Regions from separate parts of the Homo sapiens genome. Here region 2 is linked to region 1. The links come from fine-mapping of genetic effects on gene expression. Tissue or cell type: whole blood. Region 1 holds a variant in brackets; the other region holds the start of a gene. All regions are shown on one strand. Distances are from middle to middle.

Evidence for each region. PIP is the estimated chance that this variant, and not a neighbour inherited with it, causes the effect.
Region 2: it holds the start of AOPEP, and the variant in region 1 is fine-mapped to the expression of AOPEP in whole blood (INTERVAL, PIP 0.91).

What each region holds. Positions count from the first base shown.
Region 1 is chr9:94,769,409-94,779,755 of GRCh38, reverse strand. AOPEP (aminopeptidase O (putative)) reads right to left here. Exons shown (of 17, transcript NM_001193329.3): 3 at 6,588-6,754. Among named protein-coding and RNA genes, the nearest start is that of MIR2278, 35 kb to the left of the region's middle. The variant TG/G (reference allele first, on the strand shown) is at 5,444.
Region 2 is chr9:94,721,407-94,731,753 of GRCh38, reverse strand. AOPEP (aminopeptidase O (putative)) reads right to left here and starts at 5,055. Exons shown (of 17, transcript NM_001193329.3): 1 at 5,003-5,055. RefSeq lists enhancers at 4,784-5,263, 4,786-5,328, 5,274-5,443, 10,138-10,347.

The DNA of each region.
Region 1 (10,347 bases):
CACCATATTCATATTGTAAGGGGCAATTTCATCTCAGCAAAATATTAATATTTATATTCAATTTATATTTATATATTTATATCAATATAAAATTCAAATTATAAATTATAAATTTGAATTTTATTGATTTGCTAGTTTGATCTGCATTTCATTTATAATTTTATTTTGGCTTTACGGATGTGTAAGAGTTGTAAGAACACAGAGTTCATATCTAGTCTTAGATCTATAGTTTTTGAAATGTCATTCTAATATAAATAATTTAGGTCAACTGTGGTAAATCATGAGACCTTTCCCTCTAAAAAGAAGAATAATGCTCAAGTTTGGGAAACATTGTCAAACACAAGGCTTTACTGCAGGGCCAAACCATGAATGAGAAAATATGTAGGCTTGGTGAGGTGAGGGTGGGGAGAGCCACATGGCATCTTGGGAGGTGGAGTTATCACAAGCACACTGCTATAGGCAGAAATGTGAGTAGGCCACCTATCAGTGCCTATCTGAAATTGCAGTGTTTCATATACTCAATCAATTCAGCAAGTCAGGGAACCAAACAGAGACAACAGAGAAAAAGCCTATGTGAGTCTAGCAGAACCTGACTGGACAATTGCCAGCAAGACACTAGAGCCCAGATAAAGAAGCTGCGTGTATCTGCCAACCCCTTTAATCCAGTCAAGTTGACACCTAAAATTAACCACCGCACATATACAATAAATGTGTACTTTTTTTTTTTTTTAGACAGTATCATTCTGTCACCCACGCTGAAGTGCAGTGGTGTGATCTCAGCTCACTGCAACCTCTGCCTCCCTGGTTCAAGCAATTCTCTTGCCTCAGCCTCCTGAGTAAATGGGATTACAGCCGTGTACCACCACGCCCAGCTAATTTTTTTGTATTTTTGTAGAGACGGGGTTTCACTATGTTGCCCAGGCTGGTCTTGAACTCCTGGCCTCAAGTGATCCGCCCATCTTGGCCTCTCAAAGTGTTGGGATTACAGGTGTGAGCCACCACGCCTGGCCATAAATGTGTACATCTTAAATGTGTTGTTCAATGAGATTTCACAGATAAACACACTTACATAATCATTACCCCCATGAACATTTCCATTACCCCAGAAATTCCGCTGTACCCTTGCACTCATTTCTTCCTAACCCCATTCCAGCCAACCACTGATCTGGTTTCCATCAGTACAGACTGGTTTGACTTCTTCTCAAAATTCATATAAAAAGGGTCATTCAGTGTGACTCTATTTTACTCAGCATAATGTTTGTGAGATTCATCCATATTGTTGCAGGTGTCACTAGCTATTTTTTTTTTTTTTGATTTATCAGTAGTGGTCCATTGTGTGAATAAACCATAATTTGTTTATCCATCTACAGTTAGACTGTTTTTGGTCATTATGGAAAATGTGCTGTGAACAATCAGGTATTAATCGTTTTGTGGACGTAGGTTTTCATTTCTCTTGGGTAAATACTCAAGAGTAAAATTGCTAGATCGTGTAAATATATGTTTAAGTTTGTGAGTATCTGCCAAACTATTTCCAAAGTGGTTGCATTCTTTCATACTCTCACCAGCAATGTATGAGAGTTCTAGTTGTGGCTTATCCTTGGAAACACTTGGTATTTTCTGTCCTTTTAATTTTAGCCCTCTAACTAGGTGTAAAATACTATCTCATTATGGTTTTAATTTGCATTTCCCTGATGACGATGTTGAGCACCTTTTCATTTACTTTGCACATTCTTATATCTTCTTTTGAAAAGCATCTGTTCATGTCATTTGCTCATTTTCTTTCATGTGGGGTTTTTTATTGTTTTATTATTAGGTTATAAGAATACTTTATAGGCCAGGCACGGTGGCTCACACCTGTAATCCCAGCACTTTGGGAGGCCGAGGCAGGTGGATCACTGAAGGTCAGGAGTTCAAGACCAGCCTGGTAAACATGGTGAAACCCTGTCTCTACTAAGAATACAAAAATTAGCTGGGCATGGTGGTGCATGCCTGTAATCCCAGCTGCTCGGTGAGAGAATCGCTTGAGCCCGGGAAGCAGAGGTTGCAGTGAGCTGAGATCGCGCCACTGTACTCCAGCCTGGACAATAGAATGAGACACTGTCTCAAAAAAAAAAAAAAAAAAAAAAAAAAGATTATATAATTCTAGGTACAAGCCTTTTGCCAGATATATGTATTACAAATACATCCGGTATATGTGGCTTGCCTTTTCATTTTTATTTACACTTCGTCCTACTGATTTTCCATAGTGACATTTTTGTTCCTAATTTCAGCAGTAGAGATTTACATTATGTTATTTTAACATTAGTTTTCTTTTTTTTTTTTTTGAGATGGAGTCTCGCTCTGTCGCCCAGACTGGAGTGCAGTGGCACGATCTCAGCTCACTGCAAGCTCCGCCTCCCGGGTTCACGCCATTCTCCTGCCTCAGCCTCCGGAGTAGCTGGGACTACGGGCACCCACCACCACGCCCGGCTAATTTTTTGTATTTTTAGTAGAGACTGGGTTTCACCGTGTTAGCCAGGATGGTCTCAATCTCCTGACCTCATGATCCGTCCCTCGGCCTCCCGAAGTGCTGGGATTACAGGCGTGAGCCACCCCGCCCAGCCTTAACATTAGTTTTCTGTCAATCATTCAAATGAATGTCAATCATTCATTTTAAAAAATTTTCCTTCAAGAATGTTATACTTCAGTTAATAGGGCTGCTACAAATAAAAATATTAAAAAAAAGAATGTTATACCTAGCCAAGGATTGTTCATAAGTGAATACAACAAAAAGCCAATCTAAATATGGGAGGGCTCAGAAAATGTACCATTCATCCAGTCTTCTAAAAAAAAAAAAAAAATGAAGCTATTTCCCAGCCAACTTAAGAGCTCAAGAATGAAGAAAGTCTAAATACTTATTATGAAATCATTTGAAACTGAATGAAAATACAATAATAGTAATTCCTAGAAAATACATAATACAAAAAGTTATAGAGAAAATGTGAGTCCCAAATCCCAAGTTTTATTAAGTAAAACTGGAGAATATGGGTGCGGAAGGATAATGGAGTAAATACCCATCCAATTCCTTATTTGATATGAATTCCAGAGATATTGGTTAACTAAATTGTAAAACATCCATTTATAGGATACTCATAGCCATAACATAATGAGGAAAGGTCGGGCGCAGTGGCTCATGCCTGTAATCTTAGCACTTTGGGAGGCCGAGGCGAGTGGACTGCCTTAGCTCAGGAGTTCGAGCCCAGCCTGGGCAACACAGTGAAACCCCATCTCTACTAAAATACAAAACATTAGCCAGGCATGGCGGCGTGCGCCTGTAGTCCCAGCTACTCGGGAGGCTGAGGCAGGAGAAATGCTTGAACCCGGAAAGCAGAGGTTGCAGTGAGCCGAGATCACGCCACTGCACTCCAGCCTGGTGACAGAGCAAGACTCCGTCTCCAAAAAACAAATAATAATAATAAATAAATAATGAGGATACTCTTTACGCTCTGTTACAAAATATCTATAAAATAAATTTATTCTAAAAGGGAAAGCACAATACAAAAATGTGTCTAGCATGCTACAATTTGTACAACAAAAGAGAAAAAACATATTATTCAAGAGAAATTGGTAACCTTGGTTGCCTGGGGAAGTGTTACTGGATGTCTGGGAAATAGAGGTAAGAAAAACACGTTATTGCACATAATGCTTTGTCCTTTGTTCTTCTATAAATGAACCACGTAAATGTTACTTATTTTTAAATATAAAAATTTTATTTTATTTATTTATTTATTTATTTTTGAGATGGAGTCTCACTCTGTCACCCAGGCTGGAGTGCAGTGGCGTGATCTCGGCTCACTGCAAGCCCCGGATTCACACCATTCTCCCGCCTCAGCCTCCCGAGTAGCTGGGATTACAGGCGCCCGCCACCACGCCTGACTAATTTTTTGTTTGTTTGTTTATATTTTTAGTAGAGATGGGGTTTCACCGTGTTAGCCAGAATGGTCTCGATCTCCTGATATCATGATCCGCCCACCTGGGCCTCCAAAAGTGCTGGGATTACAGGCGTGAGCCACTGTCCCAGCCTAAATGTGTTGTTTTTAAGAATCAAGTAAGGCTGGGCGCAGTGGCTCACACCTGTAATTGCAGCACTTTGGGAGGCTTAGGCGGGCAGATCACGAGGTCAAGAGATCAAGACCATCCTGGCCAACATGGTGAAACCCTGTCTCTACTAAAAATACAAAAATTAGTTGGGCATGGTGGTGTATGCCTGTAGTCCCAGCTACTGGGGAGGCCGAGACAGAATCGCCTGAACCCGGGAGGCAGAGGTTGCAGTGAGCAGAGATCGCGCCATTGCACTCCAGCCTGGCGACAGAGCAAGACTCTGTCTCAAAAAAAAAAAAAAATCAAGTAAATACTCATCGGTGACTTCAGTACATACGTTAATCTAGCTTATGATAAAGACATCACAAAATTTAAAAATTCAATAAATGATCCTGAAGCAACTGGTTTTCTATTTGAAAAAAAAAGACAATGTTTAGTCCTCATTTCACAACCTGATGAGAATAAATTACAGACTGATTAAAGAGTTATAAAAATTAAACTATAAAAATATCAGAACAAAATGAATCTTAGAGAAATCTAATAAATTTAACTTCATAAAAAGACACATCATATAAAATTAAAAGATATACCAAAAGCTGGGAGCAATGCTTTTCATAAATATAAGAAATTAATATCTTTTTTTAAAGAGCCAATAAAATTGAAAAATAAGACAAATGGCAAAAATCTAGGTCTTCAGTATAAAAAATGGGCAAAGGAAATAAACAGAAAATGAAAATGGTTAAGAAACATATAAGGACATGTGAAACTCACTAATCATCAAAGTAATCCAATTAAAGAGAGACCTGCTGCTGCCTATCAGATGAGCAAAGTTCCAGGTGACAAGGACCCTCATAACTACAGATGAATGTATAAATTGGCACAGCCTTTCTGGAAAACATTATGGGATATGTACCAACAACCTTAAACATGTTCCAACTTTTGACTCAGTAATTCTAATTTTATATAAAATGTCTCCCCTGGAATTTAATGCAACTTTATTTATAACAGGAAAAAAACTGAAATAATCAAAATATTTAATATAGAAATGTTAAATTCTGATATATTCAGATAAAAAATATTGTGCCAATGTTAAAATCATATTAAAAATATTTAACGACCTGTAAATTGTTCAAGATACACTATAAGTGAAAAAGGCAGAATAAACACCATCATATGCTATCACAATTTGAGGATGATAACTGCACAAAACATATAGATTTTAAATACTGAAAGGAAATGTAACAAAATCTTAGCGATAATTTTCTCTATAATTTTTTTAATTTATTTTTAGTTTTCTGTATATTTTAAAGTTTCTATAATAAATATGTGGAAGGAGATGCCCTTTTTTTTTTTTTTTTTTTTT[TG/G]AGATGGAGTCTCACTCTGTCGCCCAGGCTGGAGTGCAGTGGCGCCATCTCAGCTCACTGCAAGCTCCATCTCCCAGGTTCACGCCATTCTCCTGCCTCAGCCTCCCGAGTAGCTGGGACGACAGGCAACCGCCCCCACGCCCGGCTAATTTTTTGTATTTTTAGTAGAGACGAGATTTCACCGTGTTAGCCAGGATGGTCTCAAAGGAGATGCCATATTTTAAATAAAGAAATAATATAACTATAAAAATGTTTCCTGGCCAGGCACAGTGGCTCACACCTTTGGGAGGCTGAGGTAGACAGATCACTTGAACCTGGGCATTCAAGACCAGCCTGGGCAACATGGCAAAATCTCATGTCTACAAAAAAAGTGCAAAAATTAGCTGGGCGTGGTAGCATGCACTTGTAGTTCCACCTACTTGGCAGGATGAGGTGGGAGGATCAATTGAGGCTGGCAGGTCAAGGCCACGGTGAGCCGTTATCAAGCCATTGCACTCCAGCCCGGGCAACAGAGCGAGACCCTGTCTCTCAAATAAACAAATTTTTTCCTGGCATCAACATGCTCAGGATCTCCACTGAAAAAGTTAAATGCTGCAATAAGAAGTAATTCATAGATAAAACCTTGATGATGCATTAGCACTGCCTTCCATCTTTCTTATACACCTTTGGTTCAGAACTTTACACAGGCAAACCATGTGTAGAAAAGATGCTTCATTAAGACAACTCCAGTGGGCCAGCCAACAAGAGCACTATCTCTTAACATAATGAATAACCATGTACAGACACCATAACAAATCACAGACAACTCAACTCTAATGGTGTTTCCATGGTACACCTGCCTGTTCAGAACGTCTTCAGTCAAGACCACCTACTTATGGCCTACAAACCACCAGGTGAAAGCAACTGCTGAAATAGTCTATGAACCGACAACTCTAGTATGAAGAGCCCCAAATCCCATGCCCAGGCTCCTAAGTGTCCCTCCCCATCCCCTGCTTGTTTTCCCTGGCAGGATGTTTTATACTATGATCATTTCCAACCCAACTAATAAAGGAGCTCTTTAAAGTTTAGAAAAATACTGTTTATTGGGTTCCTGGGTCCACATGTGTGCAATACATAAATAAGCAAAGAACACATGTACAGTACCTTCCCAAAGCTGCGTTGGTTTGGCAGAATTTTCCCCACTCATTAAAACAACAAAAGATGCAGCTGCTCGAACTGTAGCCTGCCATGTTGACATGGCAACGGGTGGCTCCTGGCATGGAAAAAGGGCCCTGTTGTTTATGGGAGATCCCACAGTATAAACACATGGCCTGCAGAAGAGAGACAAAGAAAGAAAGGGGGTGAATCTTTAAAATGAGTTGTCACTTTTCTCACCAGTATGGTAGTGCAGGTTAAGTTGAGCTTTCAAAGAAAACATTTGAAACTTTGTAGTTGACTGGTTTCCTAGCATTTTGAACTGAAGCTGCCAAGGGCTGGCTATGTGAATAGCTGAGTGGTTACTTCTCTCAGATGAATTACTTAAATATGTAAAAAGAGTTGGTTTATTTAAGGAGAAAAATATTTTTTGGATAAAGTTTTAAATACTAATCGGCCAAGTTATATTACCCTTGCCCCCTCCCCTCAGGCCCTGGTGCCTTCAAAAGAAAATTTTTAGAGACATTCTTACAAATCTTTTGGAAAGTATTCTGGAAAAGAAAATATGTTTGGAGATCACTGAGATATTAATGCTTGGAAAAACAAGCTGGTGGTCTCAAATCCAGGGCTGGCAGGCAGATACCCCCAATCTTGGAAGCCACCATCTCAAATAGAACCCTTGTGGGAATCCTTGTGTGGAGGCCAAGAACAGGGGCTGGCATATGAACAGGACTGTGGGTCACAACAACCAGGCTTGTGATGGGAAAGCCAAGGGCGCAGAGTCGTTACCAAGTCACCATGTGCAAAACCAATGACACAGCATTAGGACTCATTCTGCTGCGATTAGAAAGTACAGCCCTACCCAAACCAAGAAAGATCTGTCCCATGATAAAGTCATGGTTGACAAAGATAAAGATTCTCAAGATCAAAGGGTCCACTCTTGACACCAGAGTAGAAGGAACAAGACTGACTCCTCATAAAAAACTCAGGAGAATGTTTCTACTTTCTGTTTTTCAGTTATGACAAATGACAAATATGTAGTTTTAGTCAGCTTGACTTATAAAGTAAATGAATAGAGCAAAGCACTACTTCTTTTGGATAAACTCATTTTCTTTTTTCATTAACATCATTATAATTGAGCATTTATTGTGTTCACACAGTGTGCGAGAAAACACAGAAAGATGGTTCAACTCCATCAGTCAGGGTCTAGTATGGAAAAGAGAAACCAGTCTAGGTCTTAACAAACAGGTAATTTAAACTCGGGAATGAGTTTAAATGATAGAAGAGCGGAGAGACCAATCAGAGGACAGTAAGACAACCCAGGGATTAGCCACAGCAGTAATCAGCTGTGACTCCTCATATTGGAGGAGCTGGGTGATTACTGGGTTATGAGGCAGGAGTCATCTGGCAGAAGCCAGAGTCACAGTGGGGACTGTCCAGGGGGAGCTGGGACCACAGGAGACTCAACCACACTGAAGGGGCCAAAGGAAAACAGGAGGAGGAGAAATACGTTACAGAAGTAACGTATTTCTAGCCAGCTCCTGCTTTCAAATCTTCCACCAGTGGCCCCCACTGGCCAAACCTAGCAGGAAGCCAGAAGACAAGAGAGCCTAGGAAATGAAGTTCCTTGTCACTTGGAGAAGATCACAATAAGAGCAGAAAATGGATCTCAGCGCAAACAGGCAGTTGCTGTACGCTTATCCTACAAGTATACATGCCATGATAATGTGAAGGTTTGACATGGGGCAGGGAAAGATCAGAAAGTCTAAACACCTTTGTACCACCTGGGTTGCCAACTTACCAAATGACTGTGGGGAAGCTCCTCAACTTCTGAGTCACGGGTGAAATGGGTATTGGGCTGGTGAAGCGGGGAGCAGGTAGTGACTTCTATTGTCTGTTCTGTTCAATAAGCACCTAATTTGCATAGGGTAACTCTGTGTTATGGGTCTTCCCTTGCCTGCACAGGGAAGAAATCCTCCCCAAAAGACTGGCTTACCAAGATGTTGGTCTCCTCTCTATAAGGCTGGGTTGGAGGCCATGCTAGCATATTATTACACATTCCACTTGTGCCCTTAGGTATGTGGCCCCCAAGGCTGCCTCCATCAGCTTCCATACCACTTCCCCAAAGAAACAATCGGATTTGAGATGAGGTCAAATCTGAGAAATACTGTGCAGGAAGAATCAGGACTTAGTAAGTGATGTGCTGAAGAAGAGGGAGAAGGAAAGGAAGACTTCTGTGAAGTAGCCAGCTGCTGAGCTGGCCTCCAATATTTACAACCCCTTACTCCTAATATTTACATCGTTGTGTAGTCCCCTTCCATACTGTACCAGATCTGTGTGCCCAAACAGACCTGTGTAGAGCAAACAGGCAGTTGCAGTACACTTATTCTACAAGTATACAGGCCGTGATAATGCAAAGGTTTGACCTGGGACAGGGATGCAACAGGATACAGCAGAGGTGACGGCATGTCACTTCTGAGACTATTTTAAAATCTGTGGTTTTTATCTTAGACTATCTTTTCTCACTCTCTCTCCCATCATTTACTCTGGGCCATGAGTGTCATGAAGTCACTCAGGCAGCCTAGGGAGGCACCCACATGGTAAGAAACAGAGACCTTTGGCCAACAGTCAGTGAGGAACCAAAGCCTGCAACAGCCACGCGAGTGAGTCTGAAAGAGGATTTTCCAGCTCCTGGCACACCTTGAGACACCTGCAGCCCCGGCCAACAGCTGGACTGTAACCTTGCAAGATATTTTGAGCAAGAGACACCGGCTAAGCTGCTCCTAGATTCCCGAGCCTCAGAAACTGTGAGAGGTAATAAATGTTTGTTCTTTTAAACTGCTAAGTGTGGGGGTAATTTGTTGTGCAGCCATAGTTAACACAGACTTTTCTGAGGTTTCTGGCTCAAGTGATAAGATGGATGGCAAAGCTACTGAACAAGAAAGGAAGAACAGGATGGGTCCAGGGAGAAAGGTGGAGGGCATGCACCTGTTTAATTTGCTTATAAAGGGCTTTACATAAGCACATGACAGACGACACTTTTATGGACACAGAAAGGATGTTTTCCTAATCCCAGTGTGGTGTCCATGAATGGGTTCAAATGTCTGAAATCAGACCTGCCTCAGAAAATGTGAAAATGATGATTTGATGAAGTAGGACGCATAGATATTGTAGGCATATTTGAGTCAGTCGATGGGGGGCTGGTCCTTCCACCAACTGGATTAAAATCCACCATGTTGTCACCATCCTTTCCTTCCCAGTTCAGTATTATGTCCTCTTTAGCTATCTAGTTCTAGACATTTTGTTCTAGAATTTTGTCCTGATCCCTTCTGTCACGCTCTTGAAAGCTCTTTCTGCCATTGTGCATCTGGGCACCTGACCTCTTCCATCAAGGGGGTCAGTTACCTGGCCAGGCCCCCAGCAAGCTCTCACCTCCACCCTCCCCAGTGTGCTTACAATTCTCTATTCCCACCCTCCTCTTTCCATGGCTGGGTTATCTTTTCTGCTAAAGTCTAACATTTTTTTAGCTTCCACTTGGTATCCAGAGCTATAACTCTGAACATGTAGATCAAGTTAGCAATCTAAAAGCCACACCCCATTAATATACCCATGTCTGATAGGAGACTCAATCACATTCTTACTGAAATCCTTTCAAAAGCAGGAAAACAATCACATAAGAGGGAGGTCTTAGGGTAGGCACACCTTGAAAATGTAAATTATCTTTGTGCTCCCAGCCTATTCTTTTCTTGGCCTTTTTCTCTTCATCAGC
Region 2 (10,347 bases), 48 kb after region 1:
AAAAAAAACCTTCTAAGAGTTGTAAAATTTAAAGATATGTTGACATTTCTTTTACCAACGAGAGACTTTATAATCAGATGCCCAAATGCAAAAGAACTGCTCTAAAAGTATATCACATAGCACAGAAACCAGGGCTTTTTGGAGGCCTAGCAAAAAGATGACAAAATCAAATCAAGAGAATACTGAAGAACTATTCACCTAAAAAGTACTATTTAAAAAAACAAGTTGGGCCGGGCACGGTGGCTCACGCCTGTAATCCCAGCACTTTGGGAGGCTGAGGCAGGCGGATCACGGGGTCAGGAGATCGAGACCATCCTGGCTAACGCAGTGAAACCCCATCTCTACTAAAAATACAAAAACTAGCCGGGCATGGTGGCGGACGCCTGTAGTCCCAGCTACTCGGGAGGCTGAGGCAGGTGAATGGCGTGAACCCGGGAGGCAGAGCTCGCAGTGAGCCGAGATCGCGCCACTGCACTCCAGCCTGGGCGACAGAGCGAGACTCCGTCTCAAAAAAAAAAAAAACAAGTTGGATAAGTCTCTTGACTTGTTAAAACACTACAAGAGAGAAGTAAAAGTTGGGGGAAATGATTATGCTAGAAAAGAGCTGAGAAGCACTTACCGGGCGGAGTGAGAAAACAAGCATCCAGAAAGCCTTAGTCCTGGTGTCATTTCAGAAACTCTGAGGCTGTCCTGCTGCTGCTTTTCCAACCTGCTCCCTAACCACAGGTAATATTATCTCCATTTCCCCACTCTCAAAATGACCTACTCAGCGCCAACAACCTTCGCCTTCACTGCACGTAGCAAATTAATCGTCTTTTTTTTCTTTAACATTACAAGACATGCTTTACTTAGTATATAAATTTCTCAGTGTACATAAAATAGTATAATTATATTAAACAACCAGTCAGAATTACAACCACCGACCCAACTATGTCCTAATTCTTCATAACCACTGTGATGATGACTACACAATCCTGAGAAAACCTGCAGCAGAAACTAAGGTTGAAAACTAGTTTCTGAATACGTCTGAGTTACGCCTCTTATTTAGGCAACTATTTCATCCTTTTTGCTGTTTTTTAAAAACAATTTTTACTTGTAGAAAAAGTGTTTCTTCTCATTCTGTCCGAAGATAGAGAGATCCTATATTTTGCCATTTGGTATAAATCTCAATGTAAAATAGAGGTTTATTCTCAAATAGCATGTAAGTTACACGCTTTATGAGTCAAGAAATAAAAAACATCACTTTTCAAAAGAATTACTCAACAGAATTAATGGAGGTCAGGCTGAACAATGGTCACTACGCCTGGAAGTGGAAATAATCACTGCTGTTAGGAAACAGGCCTGGATGTCGTTTTTTCTTCACTCTCAAGGAAATGCATTAATGATCTCTGATATTAATCTGTTTATAAAATTTATACTAGACAGAAGAAGACCAATGGTCCATTCTTGACTTTTTTTTTTTTTTTTTTTGAGATGGAGTCTCGCTCTGTCGCCCAGGCTGGAGTGCAGTGGCGCAAACTCGGCTCACTACAAGCTCCGCCTCACCAGTTCACGCCATTCTCCTGCCTCAGCCTCACGAGTAGCTGGGACTATAGGCGCCCGCCACCACGCCCAGCTAATTTTTTGTATTTTTAGTAGAGATAGGGTTTCACTGCGTTAGCCAGGATGGTCTCGATCTCCTGACCTCGTGATCTACCCACCTCGGCCTTCCAAAGTGCTGGGATTACAGGCGTGAGCCACTGTGCCCGGCCCAGACATTTTCATTATGTGGAAGAGTTCCACCTGTGACATAATTTCAATAGTCTAACCTCCAAGCACAGCCTCCCAGTCTTCCTACTCTTTCTCTTGCTTACTTGCCAGCTCTTTCTTTTTTCATCGAGACTCCAGTCCCTTAGCTTTAACATTTTCTCCAATCCATCTGCTTCCTCTGACTCTATGGCAGTGGTTCTCAATTGGGGCTGATTTTGCCCCTCAGAAGACATTTGGCAACGTCTTGAGACATTTTTGATTATCACACTGGAGAGGTCTGCTACAGGCATCTAATAGGCAGAGACCAGAGATACTGCTAACATCCTACAATGCACAGGACAGCCCCCCACAGCAGAGAATTATAAATGTTTCAGAAGTAGAGACTCCCTGCTCTATGGTCTTCTTTTCTTTCTTTTTTTTTTTTTTTTAAAGACAGTGTCTCATCACTGTGTCTCCCAGGCTGGAGTGCAGTGGCGCCACCACAGCTCACTGCAGCCTCGACCTGCTGGGCTCAAGCTAATCCTTCCATCTCAGCCTCCCCCAAGTACCTGAGACTACAGGCATATGCCATCATGCCTGGCTAATTTTTGTATTTTTCGTAGTGGCAGGATTTCATCATGTTGCCCAGGCTGGTCTTGAACTCCTGGGCTCAAGGGATCCTCCTGCCTTGGGCTCCCAAGGTGCTGGGATGAGTGAGCCACAGTGCCCCCAGCCTCTATGGACATCTTTAGAATAACATAGTTCATTTCTTCAAACACTCTTGGAACATTTTAACCTCAAGTCTCTTGCTCTTTCATCCTTCTGACAGAACTTTTATAAAACCAAACCTTTAAGCAATGGAATCATCCACCTTCTGTACTTCTAAACTACTAAGCTCAACAAAAGCTGAATAAATATCACGATCACAAGAATATCTGACTCTAGATATTCATAGACTCCAACTTTGGTGGGACACCAACTTTCCTGGACAGGCAACCCTTCATGTTTCTCTCTAGTCTCCCCATCAAACCCTGTCCTTTTCCCTCAGTGATTATTCTAAACTTCTACCAACTTTCCTCAATCCCTATCCCAACAAATCAACGCAATGTCAGCAAATTCACCTGCTGCACTTAAGAACTTTTGCTCCATCACACAAGAACTTCCACACATTTCTTCCTCATCCCACACACTCACTCACGTCTGTGCCCACCCTTCTCCCCATCCCTCCCAGGAGAGTGGAAGAAGTGTCCCTCGTGCCCCGCATAGCCTGAAGGTGGCCTCTGCTCTGGAGATCGTCTTTTGGTGGCCTCTGGGACCTTGCTTCATCAATCATCCAGCCCTCTAAATCCTTGACCTCAGCATCTTCCTGTTTCCAAGCCCTTTCCACCTCACAAATGTGAATGTTCCAGTCTCTTCTTACAGGAAAAACCCACAAATGAACAAAACCCTCCCTTAAGTCCACATCTCCCTCTAACTCTTCTTTATCTCCTCACAGCCAAATTCCTTAGAAGAACTGTCCTCGACCGGGCACAGTGAGGTCAAAAATCTACTCGGCATCCTGAGTGTTTAAGAAGGCAAGAAATTGTGTAGTACATTTTTAAAATTTCCATCTCAAAGAGTCAATAAAATTTTCATTTCTAAAGAAGTATTAAGCTCTCAACTGTAAAATTACCCATTCCCTGAGGACTCCAAACAGCAGGGTTTTACTGCACAATCTTGTTTGCCATTTATCTCATTCTTAAAAATAAGGATGGTGTGTGTGTGTGTGTGTGTGTGTGTGTGTGTGCATGCGCGCACGCAGGAAGGATCACAAATTAAGCTTTCCAGGTGTTTTAACTCCAGGAATATGGGAACTTAACACAGTATTAAAGATATTAAAAAGTGTTAAATCATTTGTGTAGGTGAACAAACTCATAAAATTGTGTGCAACTATTGTAAAAAGCCTAAAATTTGAGCATTAGTAGAGTCCTTTAAGAAAAGTGCAGGCTTTGAAGTTATATTCAGACCTGAATTTAAATCTTGATTTTGCCATTTAGTTAACTGTGAATTTTTAGCAAGTCAATTTCATATAACCGAAACTCAATTTCCTTCTCTATAAATTGGGGGTAATAATTCCTAACTCACGAGGTGGTTGTATGAAGTAAGGAGAAAACATATGCAAAGTGTTGAACACAGTACCTGGGATAAAGCAGATGGGCCAACAGTAAGCAACTATTATTATACCCTAACCTTATTCTACTTTGTCCCCCAAATATTGGAAGAATCTAATCTTCCCAATTAGCAAGTCATTGGAAGGCTTCCCAGACTTATACGAAGCACAATATACACTATTCAAAAATGGAACAGACTAAAAGTATTTTAAAAATACAAAACCAAACAATCAATGAGATCAAGGATTTCAGAATTCTGCTTCTCGTCCCATATACTCAGCATCTATTCTGTCTGGTTTTGTAATAACCCATATTATTTCTTTATCAACCATATGAACCTTATTGTTGTTTTTTTGCGATCTAAACATCCCTAGCGGGTTATGTTACTTATTTTGAGGGCTACCTTTGCAAGGGTAATTGTCATCATTGCACGAAAACCAAAAAGAAATCAGGTACAAGGGGCATTTTATGCAATGCTATTAACTGTTCCATGCATCTCAACAGTGGATTGGATCCTAAGTGGATATTTTATTATCACAATAGATAATCATAATCACATTACTGTGCCACCCCCTCCCCGCCCATGCATGCGTTCATGAACAAAACTCCAGACTAACAGTATGAATGTTCTATAGGGACCCCAAAACTCAAAATGTGGTGCTCTCAGTAAAGATCCTCCGGGGGAAGAAGAGGCGGATGGGTTTCACTGCAAGTGGAAATGAATCGAATCGAAACTGTTCTGCCTACTTAAGACTGGAGATGAGCCCTGTGGGGCTAGAAGCCGAGACCGGCAGGTGACCGAGGGCCTGGAGGCAAGAGACGAAGGAGGAGGCACCCAGAGGCTGAGAAAGGTCTGTGCCGCCGGGGAGAAGACAGCCAGAGCCCGTGGCCACCTCTACAGCTGAGGTGGTAAGATGTGACCGCTCCGCCCAGTCCCCAGGATGGGTTTCAGCCCCAGGAGTCTGGGAGAACTGAGGAGGGGATGCGGGTCCTCGCTGGTCGAGCAAAAGTGAGGGTAAGGGAGGGTTCCCCGTCGCCTTCAGAACGGAATGATGCTGTCCCCGCCGCCATCCCGACGCCGGAGGAGAGGAAGGCAGGGACCCAACAGGGAGCGAACAGGTTACCTGTCTCAGCCGCGTCCCACGGGTCACCACTTCCGCAGACTCGGGGTTACTACGGGCTACCCCGGCACGCGCCGGGTGACGTCATCCACACGCGCCCGGGGCCGCATTCTGCCTGACCCGCCTTCCGCTAGGCCCGCCCCCTTAGGATGAGAGGGCGAGACCGCCCGGGGGAGATCTGCGCAGGCGCGGAGCTGCCGCGGTCATAGGAGGGCGCGAGCAGCTTGGCTGGCTAGGGCTTGTAGAGTTGCCCTGGTACCCTAGTATTCCTAATTGCAAAATCTTTATGAAGCTTAAGAAAAAAATCACCAGCCTGGGCAACCTGGGGAGGCCCCGTCTCTACAAAAAAATTAAAAAATTAGCCGAGTGTGGTGGCGTGCACCTGTGGTCCAGCTACTATGGAGGCTGAGGCAGGAGGATTGCTTAGGTCCAGGAGTTCGAGGCTGCAATGAGCTATGAACGTGCCACTACACTCCACCCTGAGCCACAGAGCAAGACCCTGTTTCAAATAAAATTTAAAAAAAGTTACTGAAATACAGATGTGCAATTTTATTCCTTAGCCTAGTCTCACCTCTGCTGCATGTGACTATTGTTCACATATTAATTCCACCACAATTTAAGGTCCTCCTGTGTGCCAGGCAAGCACCCTTAACAAAAGCTGGGGAAACAACCAGGAACAAGACAGACGCTGTGCCTTCCCTCATGGGGATTACTTTCTAGTTGAGAAAGCAAACATTAAATGTAGAAGGAAAGGCCGGGCGCGGTGGCTCACGCTTGTAATCCCAGCACTTTGGGAGGCCGAGGCAGGCGGATCACAAAGTCAGGAGATCGAGACCATCCTGGCTAACACGGTGAAACCCCGTCTCTACTAAAAATACAAAAAATTAGCCGGGCGAGGTGGTGGGCGCCTGTAGTCCCAGCTACTCGGGAGGCTGAGGCAGGAGAATGGCGGGAACCCCGGGGGGCGGAGCCTGCAGTGAGCCGAGATCGCGCCACTGCACTCCAACCTGGGCGACAGCGAGACTCCATCTCAAAAAAAAAAAAAAAAGTAGAAGGAAAATAAGTTGCTGAGAAATTAAAGGAAGACAGGTGACCTTTTGATTTGAGATGTCAAGAAAGTGCCCTCTGAAGAGGTTCAGTAAACTGAGAAGCAGCCAACTCTGTGGAGAGCTAAGGAAAGAACAGCCAAGAGAAGAATCTACATGTGAGCAAGCAATAGGGAAGGGGCAGAATGTGGTGCCTTGGAGAAAGTGAGAAAGTAGGTCATGGGAAGAACAGAGGATGAGATCAAGAAGGCAAGGAGAGTCCCCATCATGCACAGACTCTCTGGGTTCCTGTGAGGAATACGAGTTTATTCGAAGTGTAAGGGGAAACTAGTGAAGAGTTATCAACACGTAAGTGACAGGATCTAGTTTTATAACATCACCCTGCTAGCTGCTGTGTATACATGAAACTTTTGAGAAACAATTTAAAAGGATGCAAAGAGAAGAGTTGCTTTTGCAATGAGCAGGTAAGAAATGATAGAAATGGACAAATTTCAGGAATAATTCTGAGGTAGATGTGACAGACTTGGAGATGAGTTTAGATAAGGGAGATAAGGAAAAGAAAAGTGTCAAAAATAATTCTTAAATTTGGGGCCTAAGCAAATAGCTGGATCATATAGCTAAAACAAGGTTTGTTTCACCTCCTTTCAAACTTGATTTCTTTGCTTGTTTCCAAGTCAGTCCTCTAGGTTCTCCTGTCACCTATCTTTCCTCAGTTTCTATCACTGGCTTCCACTTTCCCTTTTCCTGAGCTCTTTTTTCCCTTGGCTTTCTTAGGCTCCATCAGAGGCTGCAAACCCCAAAGCCTACAGCAGCCGGGCAGTTAACACAAAGGAGTGAAGCCCAGGGATAGAGACTGTGGTGATCTGGAGCTCGTGGTCCCTACCACAGCTCTGTTGATTTTTGCCAACCAGGAATGCTGACCCGGTGATGTCAGATCCCCTGCTTAAAAGATAATCGAGGGCCGGGTATGGTGACTCACGCCTGTAATCCTAGAACTTTGGGAGACTGAGGCGGGCAGATCACAAGGTCAGGAGTTCAAGACCAGCCTGACCAATAAGGTGAAACCCTGTCTCTACTAAAAATACAAAAATTAGCCGGGCGTGGTGGTGGGTGCCTGTAATCCCAGCTACCCAGGAGGCTGAGGCAAGAGAATCGCTTGAACCCAGGAGGCAGAGGTTGCAGTGAGTCAACATCACGCCACTGTGCTCCAGCCTGGGTGACAAAGTGAGACTCCATCTCAAAAAAAAAAAAAGAAAAAGAAAAAAAAACACCAATCGATATACAGATATTTACATGAAATCTCACAAATTTTAAACATTGCTCACTAATTCACATTTTATTAAACTTCTGTTTTGGACCAAACAAAACACATCTGCTGTCCATATGAGGCCTGCAGGCCTGCACAAACTTTGCCTCCTTGATGTGTATTTTCCCAGGGTGGTGACTTTGTCTCTTGTCAGGTGACTACCACCTGTAAGTTTGTAAGCTGACAATTCCCAAGTCTATCTTTCCATTCAGACCTGTTTAAAAATTTCTTATTCAGGCCGGGTGCGGTGGCTCATGCCTGTAATCCCAATGCTTTGGGAGGCCAAGGCGGGAGGATCACCTGAGGTCAGGAGTTCGAGACCATCCTGGCCAACATGGTGAAACCCCGTCTCTACTAAAAATACAAAAATTAGCTGGGCGTGGTGGCATGCACCTGTAATCCCAGCTACTTGGGAGGCTGAGGCAGGAGAATGGTTTGAACCTGGGAGACGGAGGTTGCAGTAAGCTGAGATCATGCCATTGCATTCCAGCCTGGGCTACAGGGCGAGACTCTGTCTCAAAAAAAAAAAAAAAAAAAAAAAAAAAACTTATTCAAATATCCAGATTCCACTTAAACATCGGGCTAGCATTTAAAAACCTGAACTCGTCCTCTGTCCCCACCTCCAAACCTGACCTACTCATGTATTTTTGTCTGAGTTAATAGCATCAATATCCACCCAGTCACCCAAGCCTGAAATCCAAGATCATCCTAGACTTGTCCCTCTTTGTCATCCCACAGTCCAATCAGTATTTATCACACCTGCTCATCACCTCCATCCTTAATAACTCTTGCACTGGCTCAAGACTTCATCTTTCTTGGGAAACCTCAGTTTTCTCACTTATAAAATGAGAAGATGGAACTAGAAGATTCCTAAGATGTATTTATTTCCATCTTTATAGCCACCAAACATGTCAGAATAGTTGCCTGGAATTTGGGGTTTTATCTCATTGGGTTTTTTGTTGTTGTTATTTTGCCTGGCTATTGTTATGCCAAGGATATTGTGACCAGGTTGACAGGGAAAACTGGACTTGATAGAAATAAATACAAAATGAAATTAACAGTGGCCAAAACTGAACACAATTTAGTTATAAAATTAAAACTGACTGAAAAATAACTGCTGATTGGTAACATTGAAAACAGGAAAAATTGGCCGGGCGCGGTGGCTCACGCCTGTAATCCCAGCACTTTGGGAGGCCGAGGCGGGCGGATTACGAGATCAGGAGATCAAGACCATCCTGGCTAACACGGTGAAACCTCATCTCTCCTAAAAATACAAAAAAAAATTAGCCAGGCGTGGTGGCAGGCACCTGTAGTCCCAGCTGCTCAGGAGGCTGAGACAGGAGAATGGCGTGAACCCGGGAGGCGGAGCTTGCAGTGAGCCGAGATCGCGCGACTGCATTCCAGCTGGGCGACAGAGCAAGGCTCCATTTCAAAAAAAAAAAGAAAAGAAAACTGGAAAAATTGAGAAAAACAGACATGGTAAAATGTGTCACTTATTTTAAATTGATGAAAAAATCAATAAAATCTTTTTGACAAGATTTAGATCTACAAAGTTTCAGCGGAAAAACAACTGGTCTTGGTTAATTAACCACAAAAGAAAACTCATAATGTCAGAAACTCTAATGACTATAATTTGTCATGAAGTCAAAAAATAATGCTAAATTGTAACTTCAATGGGAAGCTTACATGTAAAAGAACTGGAAATGATTCCAGTGAAAATAATTCTAGTGAAGTAGAAAAATGAGAAACAGTTATATAAATGTTATATAACAGTTTGTATGTAATATAAAATTTAAAACATAAAATATTAAAATGAATTTTTTATAAATTTACAAAATGAAATTTGCTCCAGGACATACTTTTATTGATGCAAATCATTGATGCAAATATAATTTTGATTTAAATGTTTGTGTTTATATATACAAAATCAACACCTCATGGAGTCAAAGTGACATGAGTCAACATCTTGTATTCATTTGGTTACTCCTGAGAATACTAAGTGTTCCACTTGCAAAACTTACATTGATGAGTATTCATGTCGCAAGCAGAGATATACCCCTAAGGTCTGGGCTTAGGAATGTGTACTCCCTAGTGGATATGATTTTCATTAATGGGTTGAGATATGATTTTCATTAGTGACTTTTTTCCCCTCTGATGCTGTCAGCTCCATGAAATCTACTCATATCCTCACCGAGATTTAGTGCATTGGATTAAAGTTCAAAGAATTTCTGACAGAATTAGCCCAGATGAACTAAGTTCAATAGAGGAGAGGATGACAGAGATTGCTGGCCGGTCCTCAATATCCAGTTGTTGTTGTTGTTATTTTATTGTTGTTGTTTCATAATACTAGAACGCTCACATTCTAGGTAATAAAATATCTTTATCTAATTCTAACATGGCCACCCAGAAGAAAGACAACATTTTTCAGCCTCCCTTGCAGCTAGCTGTGGCCCTGTGACTATGCACTGGGTAATGGCTGTAAGAGAAAGTATCATGTAGCAAGGTGTGGCAACCATCCTTACCAAACAGATAAGACAAAAGTTTGTCTTCTTTTTTTCCATCATCCTTCCTTTTGATTGAAATGCAGATGTGTTGGCTTGTCTAGGTAGCCATTTTAGATCATAATTCAACCCTCAGAGCATTAGAGGAAAGCAGCAAGATAGAAAGAGTTCGGTCCCTGAGGACTTCGTGGACAGAGCTACCACATAAGTTGCACTTTAACCAAGATAAATAAGCTGCACTTTCATTTAAGTCACTTTATTTTGGGTCTATGTCTTCCACCAAATCTAATTCTAACTGAATCTAACTGAAGGACTAGGAGTCAAAAGAAAAATACACAGTAAAGACATTTGCAAACTTCACCCAGACTGAAACTGTCTTTGCAAAGATTATGACAGTGGGAGAAATCTAGCATGGTTGACTCCATCTTGCTTCCAGCCTCACAGGCTGGCTGTCTTTGCTCACTCCTGGGTGTAGGCCAAGCTAACCATGGGAGG